Homo sapiens: one gene and its partners. The protein of the gene in region 3 interacts with the protein of the main gene of each other region in a pairwise test. Each region holds a gene or a part of one and is shown on either strand. Other genes may lie near its edges.

The links. Proteins that work in one complex are often made in the same cells at the same time.
Region 1: the proteins of KATNBL1 (region 3) and ZNF329 interact in binary tests that used the Homo sapiens proteins (3 or more experiments, as listed by UniProt).
Region 2: the proteins of KATNBL1 (region 3) and POLR3C interact in binary tests that used the Homo sapiens proteins (3 or more experiments, as listed by UniProt).

What each region holds. Positions count from the first base shown.
Region 1 is NC_000019.10:58,147,619-58,155,183, forward strand, and holds the start of ZNF329 (zinc finger protein 329), read right to left. Parts: upstream 3,172-7,565; 5' UTR 3,134-3,171; intron 1-3,133. UniProt on the Homo sapiens protein: May be involved in transcriptional regulation.
Region 2 is NC_000001.11:145,827,075-145,834,370, reverse strand, and holds part of POLR3C (DNA-directed RNA polymerase III subunit RPC3), read right to left. Parts: intron 5,623-7,296; coding exon 5,534-5,622; intron 1,112-5,533; coding exon 1,007-1,111; intron 898-1,006; exon of another isoform or gene 882-897; coding exon 789-881; intron 1-788. UniProt on the Homo sapiens protein: DNA-dependent RNA polymerase catalyzes the transcription of DNA into RNA using the four ribonucleoside triphosphates as substrates.
Region 3 is NC_000015.10:34,151,080-34,158,375, forward strand, and holds part of KATNBL1 (KATNB1-like protein 1), read right to left. Parts: intron 3,606-7,296; coding exon 3,565-3,605; intron 1,991-3,564; coding exon 1,711-1,990; intron 1-1,710.

The sequences.
Region 1 (7,565 bases), on a different chromosome or scaffold from region 3:
CAGACGCCCCGTCCAGGAGGGAGGTGGGGGGCCAGCCCCCCGCCCGGCCAGCCGCCCTGTCTGGGAGATGAGGGGCGCCTCTGCCCGGCTGCCCCACTGGGAAGTGAGGAGACCCTCTGCCCGGCCAGCCGCCCCGTCCGGGAGGGAGGTGGGGGGGGTCAGCCCCCCCACCCGGCCAGCCGCCCCGTCCGGGAGGTGAGGGGCGCCTCTGCCCAGCCGCCCCTACTGGGAAGTGAGGAGCCCCTATGCCCAGCCACCACCCCGTCTGGGAGGTGTACCCAACAGCTCAATGAGAACGGGCCATGATGACAATGGCGGTTTTGTGGAATAGAAAGGGGGGAAAGGTGGGGAAAAGATTGAGAAATCGGATGGTTGCCGTGTCTGTGCAGAAAGTAGACATGGGAGACTTTTCATTTTGTTCTGTACTAAGAAAAATTCTTCTGCCTTGGGATCCTGTTGATCTGTGACCTTACCCCCAACCCTGTGCTCTCTGAAACATGTGCTGTGTCCACTCAGGGTTAAATGGATTAAGGGCGGTGCAAGATGTGCTTTGTTAAACAGATGCTTGAAGGCAGCATGCTCCTTAAGAGTCATCACCACTCCCTAATCTCAAGTACCCAGGGACACAAACACTGCGCGGAAGGCCGCAGGGTCCTCTGCCTAGGAAAACCAGAGACCTTTGTTCACTTATTTATCTGCTGACCTCCCCTCCACTATTGTCCTATGACCCTGCCAAATCCCCCTCTGCGAGAAACACCCAAGAATGATCAATTAAAAAAAAAAAAAAAAAAAGAGAGGAAGGTAAAAAATTTCCCTGTTTCTTCTTTTCCAGGTTCAGATTGGCAGGAAAAAAAAATTACAAATAAAAAACAATTAGTTTTTTGAAAAAAAAAAAGTATACTTGGGTGTGATAATAACACTAGTTTTGTTTAAATGTTCAAATGTTCTTTTTGGCTGGGTGTGGTGGCTCACACCTGTAATCCCACCACTTTGGGAGGCCAAGGCAGGAGGACTGCTTAAGACCAGGAGTTCAAGAACAGTCTGGGCAACATAGTGAGATCTCATCTCTATAAAAAATACAAAATTAAAAAATAAGAACGTTACTTTTCTTATGAGATCCTGGCTGAAGTATTTCAGAGTGAGGTATGATATCTATAACATACTTCCAGTAACTCAGCCAAAAAAACTAAGTGTATGTAAATATATGTCTGTATCACACCTGCCTCTGCAACACCTGCTGTGTGTACAAGTGTGTGTAAAATATAAAAAGAAAACCCTATGTCAGAGGCGTTTGAACCAAAGCAAACCTCCATCTTAAATGGGGACTGGGTAAAATAAGGCTGAAACCTACTGGGCTGCATTTCCAGACAGTTAAGGCATTCTAGGTCATAGGATAACACAGGAGATTTGCACAAGATACAGGTCATAAAGACCTTGTTGATAAAACAGCTTGCAGTAAAGGTGGCTAAAACCCACCAAAACCAAGATGGCAACGAGAGTGACCTCTGGTCCTGCTCCCACTAGCACCATGACAGTTTACAAATGTCATGGAAACATCAGGAAGTTACCCTATATGGCCTAAAAATGGTAGGCATGAATAATCCACCCCTTGTTTAGCATATAATCAAGAAATAACCATAAAAATGGGCGACCAGCAGTTCTTGGGGCTGCTCTATCTATGGAGTAGCCATTTTTTTATTCCTTTACTTTCTTAATAAGCTTGCTTTCACTTTACTCTATGGACTCGCCCTGAATTTTCTTTCCCAAGATATAAGAACCCTCTGTTGGGTTATAGCTCGGGACCCCCTTTCTGGTAACACCTATGCATGTGTCTCAGGCAGGGAGAAGATAAAGATAAAGCTAATGTGGCAAAAAGTGTTAATAATTTTAGAATCTGGATGGTTTTAGAAGTGTTAAACTATTCCTGCAACTTCTATGCAAATGCGGAACTTTTCAAAATGAAAAGTTGGGTGAAGAGAGAGGTAAACAAGCAGTAGAATGGAGGAAAGTCACTTGCTGTGGGAAAAAAGAAAAAACAGACAAAAACTGGGTATTCAAAACGTACTTCAACAAGCCCAAGTTCCTATAGCCAAATTTTTTAACTTGGCAAAAAATAAAGGACCTTTTCAGGCTGATGGTAATTTTAATAAAGGTTTAGGTTGCATTTGTCAAAATTCATCAATGGTACAGGGAATATCTGTGCATTTCACTGAAAGTCAATTTTGGCTCAAAAAATTTAAAAAAGCACTACTGAACTCTAATTCATGGTAAGCATAGTGAGGTGTTTGAGGGAGAAGTGTTGTGATATCTGCAACTTACTTTGAAATGTTTCCAAAAATAGGTGGATTAATGAATGGCTGAAAGGATGGACAGAAGGAAAGATAAGGGATACAGTAAGTTCAGCAGACGTTAACCGGGTCGTTCACTGCACAAGTCTTTCAGCTTCTCTATCTAAACCAACATTTTATGTCATAAAATATTGAGACTGGAAGACTGCACAAAGGAAATATGCCACTAAACCAAGGGAAAAGACAGCAAAATGGTCACTAAACACGTGCAAAAATGCGGCCCTCACTGAGAATTGCAGTAAAACATGATTTTGCAAATATCAAATGGAAAAACACACAGGTGATCTAACACCTTCGAGACTCAAGGGGAAGCGGCTCAGCCCACTGGCTCACGGCCGCCAATTCAGCCGGAGGCCGACCCAAGCCTACACTGCCCCTCACACCTGACAGAAAAGCTGCAGACTCGGGGGTTACCCCCGGAGACGGACCAGGACACCCAGCAGGCGTGGCAAAACAGTCTCTATGGGAGGGCGGGCTAGAGATGCGAGCGCGGAACTCACGGGTGACGCTAAGGAAAGAGCGGGGGCGTCCAGACCAGCCCCGGAGCGACCTCGTCCTCAGAGGAGTGACCCCAATCGCCACGGAGCGTCCCCACCCACCAGGAGAACTACGCCCCTGGCCAGACCCTCGCCCTAGCGGGCCCGACATGCCCACCACCCAGGTGAAACCCACCCGCGGACGCGCCCCTCGCCGCCCCACAAGGACCCGGCGGACCTCCACCCGCCAAGACTTCCCTCCGCAGGAAACGGAGGCAGCGCAGGGCTCAGGGATGCGTCGGCACTTACGGTTGGCGGCCGGCGGCAGCCATGTTCCGGGCGATTGCGCTTGCGCGGCTGCCGGGACAAGGATGTGCGCGTGCGCGGAGTCCCCGAGCTTCCCCCGCCCAACGCTGGGGCGGCCGCGGGTACCGGGTTATTCATTACCCTGGCGTGGACTTGCCTCGGGGCGGACGCGCAGGCATTTACTTTCTCCTATGGTCTCCTCTGATTTTTAACCCGATGCTATCATTCTTTTGTTATAGAGCCTTCCTTTTATTTACTGCATAATTTCCTAAAATATTTCTTTATCTATAATCTTTTTTTGAGATAATAATGTTAAAATTCAGAATAAGTACACTCATTATTCATTGGCAATATAATTATTTACTGGGTGCGTGGCTCACGCCTGTAATCCCAGCATTTTGGGAGGCCTAATTTGTTAAAATGACTAGATCTAAGAAATGTAAACAAAGCCAGTAACTTTCCTCTGTAGTAACAATAGCCGGTTGAAAATGAAAACTACACATTTTCATTCTTTCAGTGGTTCTCTTAAACTTTAGCATGGGGAAGCCTAAATATTTACTGACAGGGAAGAGAGAAACTGTGGTATGTGCAACGGAGCAATAGGGGGTGGTTAAAACAAACGGACTGGGCTCACCTAAGGTCAGGAGTTTGAGACCAGCCTGGCCAACATGGTGAAACCCCGTCTCCACTAAAAATACAAAAATTAGCTAGGCGTGGTGGCAGGCGCCTGTAATCCCAGCTCCTCGGGAGGCTGAGGCAAGAGAATCACTTGAACCTGGGAGGCGGAGGTTGCAGTGAGCTGAGATCGTACCATCACACTCCAGCCTGGGGGACAAGAGGGAGACTTCGTCTCAAAAAAAAAAAAAAAAAAAAGGACTAACTTATATACAAGATAGACAGTTCTCCAAAAACAGTTCGAAAAGTAAACTGTGCACTTATCCACATGATACAACTTACCTGGAAATAAAAGACACAAAATCTATATGTTATACAGAGATTGATACATAAGTAGTAAAGTAACAATAACATGGACCAGATAGATTGTCCAACCTCAAGAAAGTGGCAACTGAGGGGAAAGAGTTGGGGAGGAGACAAAGGAGACCTCAGTTACACCTGTGATGCTTGATAGGAAAAAACAAATCAAAACCTGAAAATCTGACTACATGTTAACACAGGTAAAATCTCGATGATACATGGGTGTCATCTTTATTATTTATAGATTATTCTATTACTCTCCGAACCTCTCCGCAGGTTGAAATACTTCACAATTTTGAAATGAAAATTAGAAAAAAAATTCTAAGCCATAATAGTGATTAAATTGTCACTCACAATAGTGATGGTTGGAGCAACTTGGAAATCAATTAGCAAAAGCAATAAAGGATCTTCATGAAGAAAATACAAAAACCTCATTAACAGACCTGAAGTTAAGTTCAGAACACACTGACATATTATTCCTGAATGGAAAGTATTTTTTTAATTTCTCCATGAAGGCCGTATCAGACCAGGCACAGTGGCTCATGCCTGTAATTCCAACTCTTTGGGAAGCCGGGCTGGGGGGATCACCTGAGGTCAGGAGTTCAAGATGAGCCTGGCCAACATGGTGAAACCCCATCTCTAAAAATATAAAAATTGGCTGGGCACAGTGGCTCATGCCTGCAATCCTAGTACTCGGTCTCAAAAAAAAAAAAAAAATCTTCACAAAACTACTAAACAAAAGTATAGCAATTCCAATTCAAAGACTCCCCCCGCCCCCAGCTCACAGAATAAAACAACTTAAAGATCATATGGAGAAAAGTCCAACAGTATCTGGTTAAAAGAACAGTCGGAGACCGGACGCGGTGGCTCACAACTGTAATCCCAGCACTTTGGGAGGCCGAGGCAGGTGGATCACTTGAGGTCAGGAATTCAAGACCAGCCTGGCAAACATTGTGAAACCTGTCTCTACTAAAAATACAAAAATTAGCCGGGGGTGGTGGCGGGTGCCTATAATCCTAGCTACTCCGGAGGCTGAGGCAGGAGAATTGCCTGAATCCTGGAGGCGGAGGTTGCAGTGAGCTGAGATCGTGCCACTGCACTCCAGCCTGGGTGACAGCTATACTCTCGTCTCAAAAAAAAAAGTCAGGCACCCTTTATTAGATACTAAAATGTACCATATTAAGCAGATGGGCTCAAATAGGCACTAATACAGACACAAATATCAGAAGAATAGAAGAGTATGCAAGAAGAGATGAGTAAAAGTAATAATCTAGTAATAAAGTTAACAATAAAGCATAACATCATTAATAATAACAAGGGTGTTTTTTCCATTCAGTGGCAAAGAGAAATCCTTAGTGCTAAGTACTGTGCTGGCACAAGTGTATATTCTTTTTTGTATTTTTTGAGACTGAGTCTCACTCTGTCCCCCAGGCTGGAGTGCAGTGACAAGATCTCAGCTCACTGCAACCTCCACCTTCCAGGTTCAAGTGAATCTCCTGCCTCAGCCTCCAGAGTAGCTGGGATTACATGCGCACACCACCACACCCGGCTAATTTTTGTATTTTTAGTAGAGACAGGGTTTCACCTTGTTGGCCAGGCTGGTCTCAAACTCCTGACCTCAGGTGATCCACCCACCTCAGCCTCCCAAAGTGCTGGGATGACAGGCGTGAGCCACTGCGCCTGGCCACAAGTGTATATTCTTGTAGGTCACATGTAGGCAATCTTTTTCTGTGAAAAGCCCAATAATAAATATTTTCAGCTTTGCAGACCATAAGGTCTCTGCCATGACTACCCAACTCTTCCAGATAGCAGCATAGATAATACTAAACAAACAAGTGTGACTGCATTCCAATAAAACTTTACAGAAACAGAAGGCCCACTGAGGCCATTGTTTGCCAATCCCTGTTCAGGAATTATCTGTTTGTTCTTGGGGTAGGAGACTTTCTACATCAAGATAAGCATCCCAGAAGTCATTTACAAAATGGCACTTTTTTTTTCTCTTAGAAATGGGGTCTTGCTTTGCTGTCCAGGATGTAGTCCAGTGGCATGATCATAGCCCACTGCAGCCTTGACCTCCTGGGCTCAAGCAATCCTCCCATCTCGACCTCCCCAGTTGCTGGGACTACAGGTGTACACCACCATGCCTGGCTAATTTTTTTAGTACAGATGGGGTCTCACTATTTTACCCAGGCTGCTCTCAAACTCCAGGGCTCAAGTAATCCTCAGCCTCCCAAAGTGCTGGCGTTACAGGCGTGATCCACCCTGCCTGGCCAACATATGTGATTTTTTTTTTTTTTTGAGACAGTCTTGCTCTATCGCCCAGGCTGGGGTGCAGTGGCGTGATCTCAGCTCACTGCAGCCTCCAAACTCTGCATCCCCGGTTCAAGCGATTCTCCTGTTTCAGCCTCCCAAGTAGCAGGGATTACAGGCACGTGCCACCACGCGCGGCTAATTTTTGTATTTTTAGTAGAGACGGGGTTTCACCATGTTGGCCAGGCTGGTCTACAACCCCTGAGCTCAGGCAATCCGCCCGCTTGGGCCACCCAAAGTGCCGGGATTACAGGCGTCAGCCACAGCTGTAACTTATTTAATGGGGCACTCAAGGCCTTTTGCTGCTGGCTCAACATCCCTTTCAGGCCTTCACTGACCTATGCCACACAGCACTTGCGCCCAGGGATAAAGAGCCGGATCAGCTTCTGCTCACCCCAGTCCTCTTGCCAGAAAGGCCCTCTGGCCTTTGTCCAGTTGCTGGACGCTGCCTCTTCTTTCTGGTTGGTCTCCTCCTCCAGGAGGCATTCGCGAACGCCCCAGTGGAGCCACACGGTCCATGCCTCTTCCACTTATTTCCCCAGGGCTCACATTCCACAACTACTAAATCAACACCGACACACTCATAAGCAGCCCCTTCCTCGTCCTTTTTTTCCTTCTGAGCTCGGGAACGTCTGCTGGGGGTGAGGGGGACTCGCAGACCACCCCCCCCCCCGCCCCAGGCGGAGGTCGGGGGCCGTCACCTGGCCAGGTGTCCGGGGAACGGCTCGGGCGGCTGACACCGCAGTCCGCGAGAGGCGAGGAGGATCCTTGGACTGTGGGCAGGATCGCAGGCAGCGGAGGCCCTGCCCGGAAGGCGGGATCTGGGGACGATCCCCATTCCTCCCAGCCGCAGACGCGGAGCCCACAGGAGTCCCCGCAGCCCTAGCCCGTGCACCCACGGCGGAGCCGAGGCCGCGACTCCGGGCCTGTTGGCTGGAACCCGCAGCCGTGTCTCGGGCCGCCCCGGTAGCGGCCACCCCTGAGAGCACTCGGCCCCGTTCTATCCCGCAGTGGTTTGGGGAGTGCAGGTCATCACTCCCACCCGCCAAGGCGGACGCCGGACCCTCCATTGCGCATGAGCGCCCACTGCGGCGCCGTTGCTGCGCATGAGTGTGCTTCCACCGCCTACATCTCCCAGAAAACCCCGCGG
Region 2 (7,296 bases), on a different chromosome or scaffold from region 3:
AATAAATACAGTGTAGCCTGAGCGTGTAGACCATCACATTCACATTAATCTGCCATTCATTCACTAACTCCCACAGGGCAACTTTTAGTCCTGAAAGCTCCATTCATGTTAAGTGCACTAAACAGGTGTGGTTTTTAATTTTTCATACCATATTTTTACTGTACCTTTTCTGTGATTAGATGTTTAGATACACAGATGCTACTGCGTTACAACTGCCTACAGTATTCAGTACAGTAACATGCTGTACAGGTTTACAGCCTAGAAGCCATAGGCTATCCCGTTCAGTCTAGGTGTGCTGTAGGGCTACACCATCTAGGTTTGTGTTAAGTACACCCTATGATGTTCACACAATGATGAAATCACCTAACGACACATTTCTCAGAATGTATCCCTGCTGTTAAGTGATGCATGACTGTATTACTATGAAAGTAATATAAATAACACATATTGGATATATTAAATATCGATATTTTAAGTACAGGGGGTCAAATAATGTCCTGAATGCCAAGGCTCTCAGAGTCCAAATTGTGGATTCTTAAAATAATTAGGAATAGGCTGTACTTGACGAATAGATACTTTGACTAAGTGAATAGTGTAGATTTTTAAAAGCTGGATCCTAAGAGACCAAACATTTCAGTGCTCATCACTTGAAGATAATCCCTGCTCCACATCAAATGCCCTTCTCTTTCAAGGCTCAGACCTCAACCCAAACTCAGGATCTGTGTATAATAAACGTTGATAACACCCAAGAATCTGTCAGAAAGTTAGTGCAAGAACATGAAACTCACCTCATTGGAAGACAATGGCTGGGTGAAGGGAGCACTAGAGGAAGTGGTAATCTCACTCATTCGGAGCATGGTTCGCACAATCTCGCTGCTTGTCTGTTTGAAAAGTAAACTAGAATTCAGAAATCACAGTGCTGCCCCTGGCTCTATGTGCCAATGGCCATATCTGACAAATAAGTAAATGTCCCTGATGACCAATGACAGACCCACTTAGGTATTACCTGGTCCATCCTGTTAGCAACTGCGCTCACAATGGCTTGGTCACGGAAGTGTTGGTGGAATCTGTCAAGGTTGGCCTGCCAATAAATCCCATCATCTGGAATGGGCTGAGGAAAAGATTTAGAGAAACATTTAGCTATAGTGTAAAGTTTTCTGGTGAGGAGCTTGGATTTAATGGTTCACCATTTCTTTTCCTACACAGTAACAATTACATTGGTTGGAAAAAAATCATTCAGTCATGTAGACTGGTGTCTAGACAAATTCCGACTTCAAACAGGTTTTCTAAGCTCATCTCCAATCTTTCTCTCCCTATTTTATTATTTAACATTTATTTTAATTTTTTTCTGAGACGGAGTTTTGCTCGTCACCCAGGCTGGAGTGCAGTGGCATGATCTCGGCTCACTGCAACCTCTGCCTCTCGGGTTCAAGTGATTCTCCTGTCTCAGCCTACTGAGTAGTTGGGATTACAGGCAACCACCACTGCGCTAGGCTAATTTTTGTATTTTTAGTAGAGTTGGGGTTTTACAATGTTGGCCAGGCTGGTCTCGAACTCCTGACCTCAGGTGATCTGCCTGCCTCGGACTCCAAGTGCTGGGATTATAGGTGTGAGCCACCACATCCGGCCTTTCTCTCTCTATTTTAACTCTTCTCCATTACTTTCAAGTCTCCAACTTGACCCTTCTTCCTTCTCACTCTCGGCAGATGACTTTGCCTCTCATTTCACAGAGAAAATAGAAGACACTAGGCCAGAACTCACTCAGCTCTGTGCACATCCTCACCACATTTCTTTTTTGTTCTTGATTCATATTTTCACTCACTTTTATCACAGCTGAAAAATGCTCCTTTTACCTAAGGTTAATGCCCATATTGGTATTCCAAATCTTACTCTCTCATTCATTCTTGGGGATCCAGCTCTATTTTACCCTGTCCTCTAACATCTTCAGGCTTTCCTTCTCTACCGCCTTCTTATCAGCCTTTACCCTGTCCAAGTCTCTTTCTACTCTAGAATTCTCTTTCAACCCTATGCCTTCTCTTCTTTTCCTTAGTGTCACAGCCAAGCTTCTCAAACAGTTGGCCATCTCAGTTGTATCTCTACCTAGATTTACGCAACCCATTTCCACTATTGTACTGAAATGTCAATTGTCACTCGCATTCCAGTGAAATTCCACAACTGTCCTTAAGGATTCTATGTTGTTAAGTTCAAATAATAATTTCCACTTCTGATCTTATTTAACCTTTTGGAAGCATATGACATGGTTGGACATTTTTTCCTTCTTAAAACTTTATGTGGCTCCTTGGTTTTATGACACCATTTTTTTTTTCCTTTTAAAGACAGGGTCTTTGTCACCCAGGCTGGAGTGCAGTGGTGTGATTGTAGCTCACTGCAGCCTTGACCTCCCTGGGCTCAGGTGATCCTCTCATCTCAGCCTCCCAAGCAGCTGGGACCACAGGTGCGTGCCACCACGCTTGGGTAATTTTTGTATTTTTCTGTAGAGACGGTCTCACCATGTTGCTCAGGATGGTCTCAAATTCCTAGGCTCAAGCGATCTGCCCGCCTTGGCCTTCCAAAGTGTTAGGATTACAAGTGTGAGCCACTGGGCCTGGCCGACACCATTTTTTCTTGGCGTTACTTTGAACCTTTCTGGCTACCTTTCCTCAGTATCCACAGATTCCTCTTTCAGATCCCAACTGTAATCCTGGTGTTTTGTCAGGGTTCTGTCCATACCTTTCCTTTCTTTTTACTCTACATGCTCTACTTGGGTAATTTTATCTGCTCTCCAGGCTTCAACTATTGATGCATTTCCAAATCTGTTACTCTATCCTAGAACTCTCTCTTTTTTTTTTTTTTTTTGAGATGGAGTTTTGCTCTTTCGCCCAGGCTGGAGTGAAGTGGCACAATCTCCGCTCACTGCAACCTCTGCCCCCCAGGTTCAAGCGATTCTCCTGCCTCAGCTTCCCAAGTAGCTGGGATTACAGGCCTGCGCCACCATGCATGGCTAATTTTTGTATTTTTAGTAGAGACGGGGTTTCGCCATCTTGGCCAGGCTGGTCTCGAACTCCTGACCTCAGGTGATCCACCTGCCTCTGCCTCCCAAAGTGCTAGGATTACAGGCATTACCGCACCCGGCCTATCCTGGAACTCTCTATTATGCTCCAGATGCATAGACTCAGCTGCCTATTTGACACTTCCATTTGTTCCCCAAACTGTTCTGTTTTGTAAGTTTTCAGGTAACTACACTATAACCAACCCAATTTTTTTTTTTTTTTGAGACAGGGTCTTGCTCTGTTGCCCAGGCTGTAGTGCAGTGGCACCATCATGGCTCACTGAAGCCTTGACTTCCTGGGCTCAAGTGATCCTCCCACCTCAGCCCCTGAGTAGCTGGGACTACAAACATGTGCCACCAGGTCTGGTGTTTTTTTTTTTGGTACAGATGGGGTCTCACTATGTTGTCCAGGCTGGTCTCAAACTCCTGGGCTCAAGTGATTCTTCTACGTCAGCCTCCCAAAATGCTGGGATTACAGGCACGAGCCACTGTGCCTAGACAACCCAATTTCTTTTTTTTTTTTGAGATGGAGTCTTGCTCTGTCACCAAGGATGGAGTGCAGTGGCGTGATCTCAGCTCACTGCAACCCCTGCCTCCCAGGTTCAGGCCATTATCCTGCCGCAGCCTCCCAAGTAGCTGTAATTACAGGCACCTACCACCATGGCCGGTTAATTTTTGTATTTTTAGTAGAGACGGGGTTTCACCATGTTGACCAGGCTCATCTCGAACTCTGACCTCAGGTGATCCACCTACCTCGGCCTCCCAAAGTGCTGGGATTACAGGTGTGAGCCACTGTGCTTGGCCAGCCAACCCGATTTCTTAAGCTACAAACTTGGGTATCACCCCTAGTCCCTTGCTCTCCATAATCTACCACCCCATTACCAAGTTCTATCTATTCTTTATATTTATCAGATGTCTACTTTTCTTTCTCCTATCATTACCTTATTTCAGACTCTAAATCTTGGCCCATCTGGATTACTACAATAGCCTCCTAACTGGGTTTTTTTTTTTCCCTTTAAAACATAGCAGACACTATAAAAGGAGTAACTGGGTTTTCTCCTTCTAATTTTGTTTTGCATCATTCTTCCCATTTCTTAGAGTAGTGCTTTTTTTTTTTTTAAACTGTTTTGGGTCACAGTTCCTTTGAAGAATGTAATGAAAGGTACGGAGAGCTTCACTGAAAAATGCACGTAAGTATAACTGGACTCTCTGAAATCCATCCATGGAGTAGAACAAGTTAGGAACTGCTGTGCTATAATAATCTTTCTAAAATATAAATCCAGTCACTTCATTTCCCTGCTTAAAATCCATCAATGGCTCTCCTTTGCCTTCAGGATAAAGCCCAAACCTCTTAGACAAACATGTACACAAATAATAAATAATTCCAGTTATAAATATAAATGCTGTGAAGTATATGAAATGAGAAATGTGGTAGGAACTAGTGTAGGAGTGGGCAATGGTGCTTGAAGTCTATGAAAACAGCATTTAAGATAGAAATGATAAAAACAGAGACCACTACATGAAGATCTGGGGACAAACATTTGAAGCCGGAGCCAAAGTCTAAAGACCAGAAAGAGTTTGACATGTTTAAGAGATAAAGTCAGTAGAGGGAACACAGTGAGTAAGATGGAGACGGGGCAGAGGTGAGGTTGAAGAGCCCTGTCTCCAGCAGATCATACGAAGACCTAGATCACGTAAGGCTTCCTAGCCCGTACCTTGGATTTCTTCTAAAAGTAAAGGAAAGCTATTAAAGGAGTCTAATCAGTGGATGTGTTGTTTTGTTTTGAACAACTTAGAAAGTCATTTTGGCTACTAAGTAGGTAAGAATGCAGCTAGGGAGACCATTAACGAAAGCGTTTGCAAAGAGTTGAGAGATGGCAGTGAAAAGATGAGAAATGGTTGGATTTGAGGTAATTTTGGAAACTGGGCTGATATGTTTTACTGTGAGATTAGAGGGTTCCAAGGATTTTGGCTTAAGCAGAAATGGTGGTGTCCTAGGCGGCTGGCCTACGTGGTAGTGTCTTTTACTAAGATGAGGAAGTTTATGAGGGAGCAAGATATTTGGGAGGAGGAATCAATTATTCTGTTTTGGCCACACTAAATTTGAGATGCTTACTGACATCTTTATAGGTACGCTAAGAAGGCATTTGAATATGAGTTCAGGCCTATGTATAGTTTTTAGACCCATTTTTCATCACTGGCCCCTGTAGGTCTTTAGGTTCTCGCCATATTGAGCAACCTAAACTTTTTCTAGGCCCCTTTTTACATAAGCTGTTACCTCTGTTCAATGAAAGAATTAAGTTAAGGCTCAGAAGGGAGACAGTAATGGTTCATTCTTTGTTAGTCTATTCCTAATATTTAATGAGGTTCATAATCCTACTGCTTCTTAGCTCAGGAAGCTTTAAGCTCTCTTGGGGCTTGTTATCTGAGTGCTCTTTCTGGCCTGCTTCAGGGTGAGGACTTCTAATCAAGAAGCCCCATTACCTCCTTGTTATCTGTAGTATATTTTGGTCTCTTGGCCTTGGGCTCCCCAGCAGCATCTTCATCAGATGATCTCCTCCTTTTACCTTTCCCTGCCAAACAAACAATTAAACACTTAGACTATATCTCATATGATGACAGGAAATGACCAAACATGAGAGCAGGTGTCTTTCATTCCAAAGACATCTGTAGCTGCCTCTAGATCAGAGTTGCTTAGGGGGCTGAAGAGCTATAAGAAACTCAAGTAACTGATGAAATAATCTGAAACTCAACATGTTCAAAAAGAGTCTTATAGTCTTTCTCCTCCAATGCTCTCTTTCATGGCCAGTGATATCATCCTCCCACATGTGCAAGTCAGACACACAGATGTCACTCTTAGTACTTGTTTCCTTCACCCTCTCTCTTTCATTTTCCACCAGTCTGTCAACATTTACCTTTGCCCCATTCTCCCATCCTTTCTGTAGACAAAAAATCTTTTGAAAGTGCAAATTAGATCATGTCATTTCCTTAAAAATCCTTCAGTGGTCTTCCTTTGCTCTTAGCATAAAGAACAGATGCTCTATAAGGTCTTACTTGATTCAGCCCCTGCCTGTCTCCCATCCAAGTACTAAGCAGGTTGATCCTGATTAGCTTCTGAGATCAGACCCCTGCCTAGCTATGTCTCTAACCTTACCTCATGCCTCTCTTGCTTTGCTTACAATGCTTTAGCTATACTGACATTCTTTCATTTCCTCAAATGCTATTTTTTTACTACATACTATTCCCTCTGCCAAAAATGCTTTTCCTGTTACCTCACTGTTAGCTTCTACTTCAAATCTTAGCTCAAATGCCACCTTCTCAAAGAAACATGAGGCCTAAACTCCCAGATGAATCCCGTCTCTCGTTATATATTTTCTTTTCTTTTTTTTTTCCCGAGACAGAGTCTCACTCTGTCACCCAGGCTGGAGTACAGTGGTGCAATCTTGGCTCACTGCAATCGCTGTCTCCTGGGTTCAAGCAATTCTCCTGCCCCAGCCTCCCGAGTAGCTGGGATTACAGGCGTATGCCACCATACCTGGCTATTTTTTTTTTTTTTTTTTTTTGAGACGGAGTCTGGCTCTGTTGCCCAGGCTGGAGTGCAGTGGCACGATCTCGGCTCACTGCAACCTCCGCTTCCCGGGTTCATGCTATTTTCCTGCCTCAGCCTCCCAAGTAGCTGGGACTACAGATGCCCGCCACCACACCCAGCTAATTTTTTGTATTTTTAGTATAGACGGGGTTTCCCGGTATTAGCCAGGATGGTCTCGATCTCCTGACCTCGTGATCCGCCCACCTTGGCCTCCCAAAGTGCTGGGATTACAGGCGTGAACCACCATGCCCGGCTACCTGGCTAATTTTTATAATTTTAGTAGAGATGGGGTTTCAACATGTTGCCCAGGCTGGTCTCGAACTCCTGGCCTCATGCAATTCGCCTGCCTCAGTCTCCCAAAGTCTCCATTATATATTTTCATAACACCTCATACTTTTCCTTCATGGCACTTATTACAGTTTAATTATATACTGATGTGATTTTCTGATTAATGCATGTCTCATAATACTATGACAGTTCCTTCATAGGAATATTTCCTTCATAGTACTTATCACCGTTTAATGATATATCGATGTGATTTTCCGATTAATGTATGTCTCCTATACTAAAGCCCCATGGCAGAGACCATGATTTTTTCATTGTTATACACCACGATGTCTGGCACATAGCAAATACTTGGTAAATACAATCACATTTC
Region 3 (7,296 bases):
TGTGTCTTTATGGTAGCATGTTTTATATTCCTTTGGGTATATATCCAATAATAAGATTGTTTTAAGTTCTTTGAAAAATTGTCGCACTGCTTTCACAATGGCTGAAACTAAATTACATTGTCACCAGCATTGTATAAGTGTTCTTTTTCCACAACCTTGCCAGAATCTATTATTTTTTGACTTTTTAATAATAGCCATTCTAACTGGTATGAGATGATATCCTGTTGTGGTTTTGATTTGCATTTCTCTAATGATGAGTGATTTTAGGTTTAGCATTTAGGCTGAGCATTTTTTCATATGCTTGTCACCTACATGTATGTCTTCTTTTGAAAAGTGTCTATTGTGTCCTTTGCCTACTTTTTTTTTTTTTTTTTTTTTTTTTTTTTTTTTGAGACAGAATCTCACTCTGTAACCCAGGCTGGAGTGCAGTGACAAGATCTTGGCTCACTGCAACCTTTGCCTCCCGGGTTCAAGCAATTCTTGAGCGTCAGCCTCCCAAGTAGCTGGCATTACAGGCGTGCACCACCACGCCTGGGTAATTTTTGTATTTTTGGTAAAGATGGGGTTTTGCCATGTTGGCCAGGCGAGTCTTGAACTCCTGACCACCTGCCTTGGCCTCCCAAAGTGTGCCACCATGCCTAGCTAATTTTTGTATTTCTAGTAGAGATGAGGTTTCGCCATGTTGGCCAGGCCCAGTTTTAGAATATTTCTATCACTCTCAAAAACGCTTTTGAGTCTGTTAACCAGTTTTGCTTGAGCCAGAAGAGCAGCAAACCACAGCAGGTTTGCCTGAACTATGCTTTAACCAGGCAATATTGAGAGCCCGGCAAAATGTGTCTGGATAACTGGCTTCGGTGGTCCACTTTTTTTTTTTTTTTTGAGATGGAGTCTTGCTCTCTTGCCCAGGCTGGAGTGCAATGGAATGATCGCGGCTCACTGCAACCTCTGCCTCCCAGGTTCAAGTGATTCTTCTGCCTCAGCCTCCCAAGCAGCTGGGATTACAGGCACCCACCATCATGCCCGGCTCATTTTTGTACTTTTGTAGAGACAGGGTGTTTCACCATGTTGCCCAGGCTGGCCTCGAACTCCCGACCTCAGGTGATCTGCCTGCAGATGTTGTCCTTTTTATTTTTATTTTTTTGAGACGGAGTCGCTCTGTTGCCCAGGCTGGAGTGCAATGGTGTGATCTCAACTCACTGCAACTTCTGCCTCCCGGGTTCAAGCGATTCTCCTGTCTCAGCCTCCTTCTGAGTAGCTGGGATTACAGGCGCCCCCCACCATGCCCGGCTAATTTTTGTATTTTTAGTAGAGGCAGGGTTTCACCATGTTGGCCAGGCTGGTCTCAAACGCCTAACCTCGTGATCCACCCACCTCGGGCTCCAGGCGTGAGCCACTGTGTCCGGCCTAGTGCTCCACTTTTTTAGGCAAGATTTCTCCTTTTCCCTTCCTTTAAATCTCTACTGGCTAACTTGTCATTCTGGATAGTTTTAGCAGCCTGCTAAGCATTTCATCCCATCTTAGAGAAATGGAATAAATTATTAATTCAAATTTGGTTAATCTAGAAAATTGTCTCAGGGAGTTACTATGACTCAAATAAGTCTACATTCAATAGGTGACAAATTATTCTGCTAGTGGAATATGGCAAAGAAAAAAATCAAGATTATAACAGGAACAAAGTTAAACTAGATATGAGTTAGAGAAAAGACTTACCTCAGAAAAAAACCCACTATATTTTGATGATGGGCTTTCTGTCTGTGAAGAACCAGAATCACTGGAGTTAACCAAATATGTTCGACTATCATGGTGTAATTTTTCAGGCAGGTGGCCTGCACAAGCCAGTTCATTTTCTTTATTTGCCATGTCACAGCCCCCACTTCCAGGGGACTGTTTTTTTCTGTAACAAGGATTTGGAAAGGGATGATGAACTTTCTTTCTGCGATAGATCACTTTACGAAGTTTATCTGGGCTTTTCACAGTTTGTCCAACTGTTCTGTAAAAAGAATTTATTTTCTTAAATGAAAAAGAACCATATGAAATCCTTTAAAAGTTTTTAAACAGAGAATTAATAGGCTATATTTGGTGATTGTAATCCACTAAAATTAGAAATAAATAGAATTTTAAAAATCTTAATTCTGAGTTGAAGAGAAAAGTAAAAGGGAAATTACAAATTATCTGGAAGACAATGTAAAGGATGACATTTTATGCCAAATAAAAATGAAGACAGACATAATAACCAGAATGCTTTTAAAAATGAAATATTAAAGGCCATTCTGGGAGTAAGAAGACCACAACATTTTCTAGAAACCTGATCTTTTTCTAACAAAGTGGCAAATAAGACTGCAAGTGTGAATATTTTAAAATTTAATTAAGCTGAAGTATATTGATTTATTTGAGTAAGAACACGATAGAGCAAGCCTCATCGTTTAATACAGTGGTTCTCAAACGTTTTAGTGTCACGATGCTTTGCTCTCTTAAAAATAATTAATGACTCAAAAATTTTTTTTTTTTTTGAGATGCAGTCTCTCTCTGTTGCCAGGCTAGTGTGCAGTGGCACAATCTCAGCTCACTGCAACCTCCACCTCCCAGGTTCAAGTGATTCTCTTGCCTCAGCCTCCTGAGTAGCTGGGACTACAGTCGCGCGCCACCATGCTGAACTAACTTTTGTATTTTTAGTAGAGACAGGGTTTCACCCTGTTGGCAAGGATGATCTTGATCTCTTGACCTCATGATCCACCCACCTTGGCCTCCTAAAGTGCTGGGAATACAGGTGTGAGCCATGGCCAAAATAATTTTTATGTGAATAGTATCTATTGATATTTACTGTGTAAAAACTAAAACAAAATTTAAATCATTTGTTAATTCATTCAAAAAAAGACTAATTACATATTAACATGGAATATCTTACCCAAAACCCATATTTTCTAAAATAATTTTTTAAAAAGTGAGAAGAATGGTACTGTTTTACATTTTTATATATCTCTAATATCTGGTTTAACAAAAGACAGCTGGGTTCTCATTTCTGCTTCTCCATTCAATCTACTGTGATATCAAATGGCATATAGCTTCTTGAAAAATTATATTGTACCCTCAAACAAGAGAATGAAAATGAAGACAGTCAATGTCTTAGTATTGCTATGGAAGTAATTCTGACTTCACAAATTCCATGAATGGTCTTTAGGGACCCGCAGGTCCTCAAATCACACTTTGAAAACCAGTCGTTTTGTAGAAAGTGCCTTTAGAAGTTAGGCAGATCTGAGAATGAATGTCATTCTTACCACTTTTCTAGCTATATGATTCTGAACAAATCATTTAACTTATCTGATCTTAAGTTTTCTCATCAACTGTTAGGGTTAATGTTATCTATAGAGTAGGCTATAGAGTAGGACTGTTGTAAGGAGCAGAGACAATATTGATGTGTTTATTAGTGCAGATACTGGCATAAAGAAGCTGTTTGACAATAAGTTAATTATTATTATGATAAAAGAATGCTTATTTTTCCCTTATTGTCATCCTTACCCAGCTTTCATATTTGTTGTTCCCCACAAACTTTAAAGAAACTCTTACCTATTTATGTAAGCAGCCAACTGTTTTGGAGATTTCTTAACCTGAAAAATGAAAGTAGATAGTTGATGTTAGAAACAAATGCTTGGTGCCGCAAAGAAGAATCAGCACTCCGGCAAAAAGCTTTCTCAGCAAGGCAATTTACTTCTGCAGAAGGGTGCCAATCGTGCCTGGAGTGGTCGCAAGAGCATACCGGGCATGGGAGGAGAAGGGGTTCTTATCCCTAATGCAGCTAGTCCCTACTACTGTGTCATTCCCCTATTGGCTAGGGTTGGACCGCACAGTCTAAACTAATTCTGATAGGCTATCTGGGTATGAGGCAGAGTGGCGGGGTGAGCAGTTTAGGCAGGAAGGATGGTTACAGTGCAGGTGACTAAGGATGACTAAGGACAGAGCAGGTGACTAAGGATGACTAAGGACTCTAAATATGTGAGTATAAAGGCTAGAAGGGGGTTGTTTACTGAAACTAGGGCAAGGAGGTGTAAAGAATGAGGAAGTTAAACTTTAAAATGGAGAACAAAGTATAAGAAAGCTGAACATACTGACATACTGGTTCCCAGAGGAACTCAGAACTCACTGTACTTAACAATATCCCCCTTTTGAATTTTACAGGTCTTCCTCTTCAAATTTCTTTAACATGTCTTGGCATAGCTGTTCTGCTTGGTTTTCTAAAAGAAAGAGCTTGTCAGAATATGGTGGAGGGGAACTGAGAGAAGTTTTAGTAAGGGCTGTTTCTGTATGTCTTTGGACTAGCCCACGGATGCGAGGTATGATGCAGCATCCAACAAGGATAAGCACTACTGCTACAATTGCAAGAGAAGTAAGGATGGTGGCTGTGATCCCTTTCCATTTACCAAACCATTTTTCTAGCCACCCTGTGAAGGGGTCATTTACTCCTGAGTTTTTTGCTAACTCATTGGACAGAGCAGTTAGACCTTGCAATGCCTTTGTTATACTTTCATCAGGGGCGGTATTGTTTGGGATGAAGGTACAACACTGAGTTTTAATCATGATGCAAACTTCCCCTTTTTCTGCTAAAATCATGTCTAAGGCCATTCTATTTTCCCAAGCCATCTGGCTAGTAAGCCCTAATTGCTCAGCTATTCCTTTAACAGCATCTCTAGTATAGTTAATAAACCGCTGTTGGTTGTAATAGGTGGAATTTATCTAATCTACGTTTTTATTAATTGTCACCCACCAAAATATTGACTCAAATCCAGCAGCTATTTGATCTCAGGTCTTAAATTTATTTGGTACTCCTCGTGGGACTCTAATTGCATCTAAATAAATGTGGGAGTCGAAAGACCCATAAGGGGCTTCCCTTGCTTTATGACATTGTGTTTTTTTCTTTCTCTGGTTGATGAAATGCCAGGGTGAAAGGGATAGCCAACTGCACTAGGGCGCAAGTGACACTCCAGTTACTAGGCAGAGTGTCCAGCAAAGGTCTACCACAATATCACCATACATCTGCTCGGGGGTGTATAAGGGCTGACTGGTTGGTGAGCTCTTGGAAAGTCTTAAGCTCACCGCATCCTTTTAGGTCTCTAAGGGATGCTAAGTTTCCTCTTTGTCGTGAGAGACACAAAATGAACTCAGTGTCGGGAGACAGAAGCTGGATGGCCCTCGGGGGCTAACCTGTGGGGTCTTGAACTTCGGGATATAGCAGAGAAAGAGCTTGGCACGACTTGTTACCCCAGGCTGTGGAATCCTGGAAAAAGAGCTACCATACAGCCCATGCCTGGTTGACTGGAGGACCATCATAGTGGAAAGGGGACAATCTGGCCCTCTGGCCTGCCATGCGCACGAGCATAACAATTGCTTTTGTTTAAAGTGCGGATGAAATATTTTATCTATTCTAACCAGGCATTGGCATTTTGATATCCCGTCTCAATTGCTAAAGTTTCTTTTAGGACTTTGACTTCTACAATAGCTACCTTCGTCTTGTCATTAGATGGAGGAAGAACAACAGTTTTGTTGTGGGAGGTTCTGGAAGAAGGCTTAGGGGAAGGTGTAGGCGGTGGGGGAGCAATGAAGAATATTTCAAAGGATCTGATAGGGTCTGCTCCTGAAACCTCAGCCCCCATATTATAAAACTGGCTTAAAGAAGGAAATTGGCTTAGAGAAGGGGAAGAACTTAGAGGGTTTGAGATAATAGCCTGTACTGGATTGTACTGATTTAGCTGACAGTTAGGGGAAGCTGTTCCTTTAGTAAAATGAATGTATAGCTTTAGGAAATTACAACTACTGCTTGGGGCAATCTATTCTTGCTCTTTAGTGGTCCACAGAATGTTGGACCAACTACAGCATAAAAGCTTTGTATTGGGAAGGCAAGACTCTCAGTTTATACTGGAATCTCCGTCAAACTCTTCCCAAGCTAACTTATCCCAGTTAACAGAATTCCAGTCTGAGAAGAGCTAGGAAGGACAAAGATACTTTTCTGAAGTGGAGAGTTGCCTCTGGCTTGGCACATCTCCACAGGGCATCACAAGGCAAGCATCAAAGGTAATAGTTTGGGGTGAACTCGACCTAGTTACATTAATAACAAGAGGACTAGCAATAGATGGGGAAAAGAAGAGATGCAACATAAGAGGATCAAACCCGTTTTAGCTTTAGCTTGGTTAGAGTAAGCCCTAGAATAGCTGCCCATGATTCTGGAGGAGGTGGTGCTCTTTTGACCTGGGTGTGATGAGTCCATCCCATTTCTGCTGTTTGAACTGTGGTCTCAATGGTTAGAAGCACTAGGCAGGGTCCTTCCTAAGCTGGTTCAAGTTTTCCTTCCCTCCAACTTTTGACAAGGATGTGGTCCCTAGGCTGATGTTGGTGTACTGGAAACTCTAGGGGTGGTGCCTGTGCTAAAAGACCTTTAGTTCTGAGGCAAGAGAAAGTGGAAGATAAACTTAAGTATATAATTTCTGAGAAACTGATCTTTTGTTTCGAACATGGGAATGTCAGCAGCGGAGTGCAAATAGAGCAACTTACACAACATTTCATAAGGGGATAAGCCAACATCTCTCTGAGGAGCAGTTCGGATTCTCAACAGGGCAATGGGAAGGCATCTAGTCCATGGCAACCGAGTCTCTAAGACTAATTTGCTTAAGTGGCTTTTTAGAGTTTGGTTCATTTTTTTCCCCACTCTTCCTGATGAAGGTGGGTGCCAGGGAGTATGATTTCCCATGTTATATCCAGTACCTGGGCTAATTTCTTAATGACATGTGCAATGAAATGAGTTCCATTATCTGAATCAATGTTTCCTATTAATCCAAACCTGGGTATAATATTTTCAACTAATGTTTTGACTACATTATTAGCAGTTGCACTTGAAAGGAAATAGCTTCTACCCAATGAGTAAGGTGATCTACTATTACTAATAAATATTTTAGACAACCAATTTGGGGCATCTTGGCGTAATCAACTTGGATACTTTGGAACAGTCTTAATTCCAGATACCTTCCCCTAAGAGGTGGTTTTCTGAGGGTCTGCTTATTAGTCATCCTAAATACTAGGCAACTATCTGTAACCTGTCATGTCAAAGTGTAAATTGCTACACATCCATAAACCCAAAGGACTGCATCACACATAGCTTGAGGTCCCCAATGAGTCTCTTGATGCAGATGAGAGAGGTCTCTCATAAGGGAATTGGATAACATTTTTCTTTGGTCTGGTAACACCCATTTCTCTTCTGAATTTTCTTTGGCCCCTATTTTTATTAATTTCTCTTTTTCAGTGGGAAAGAAG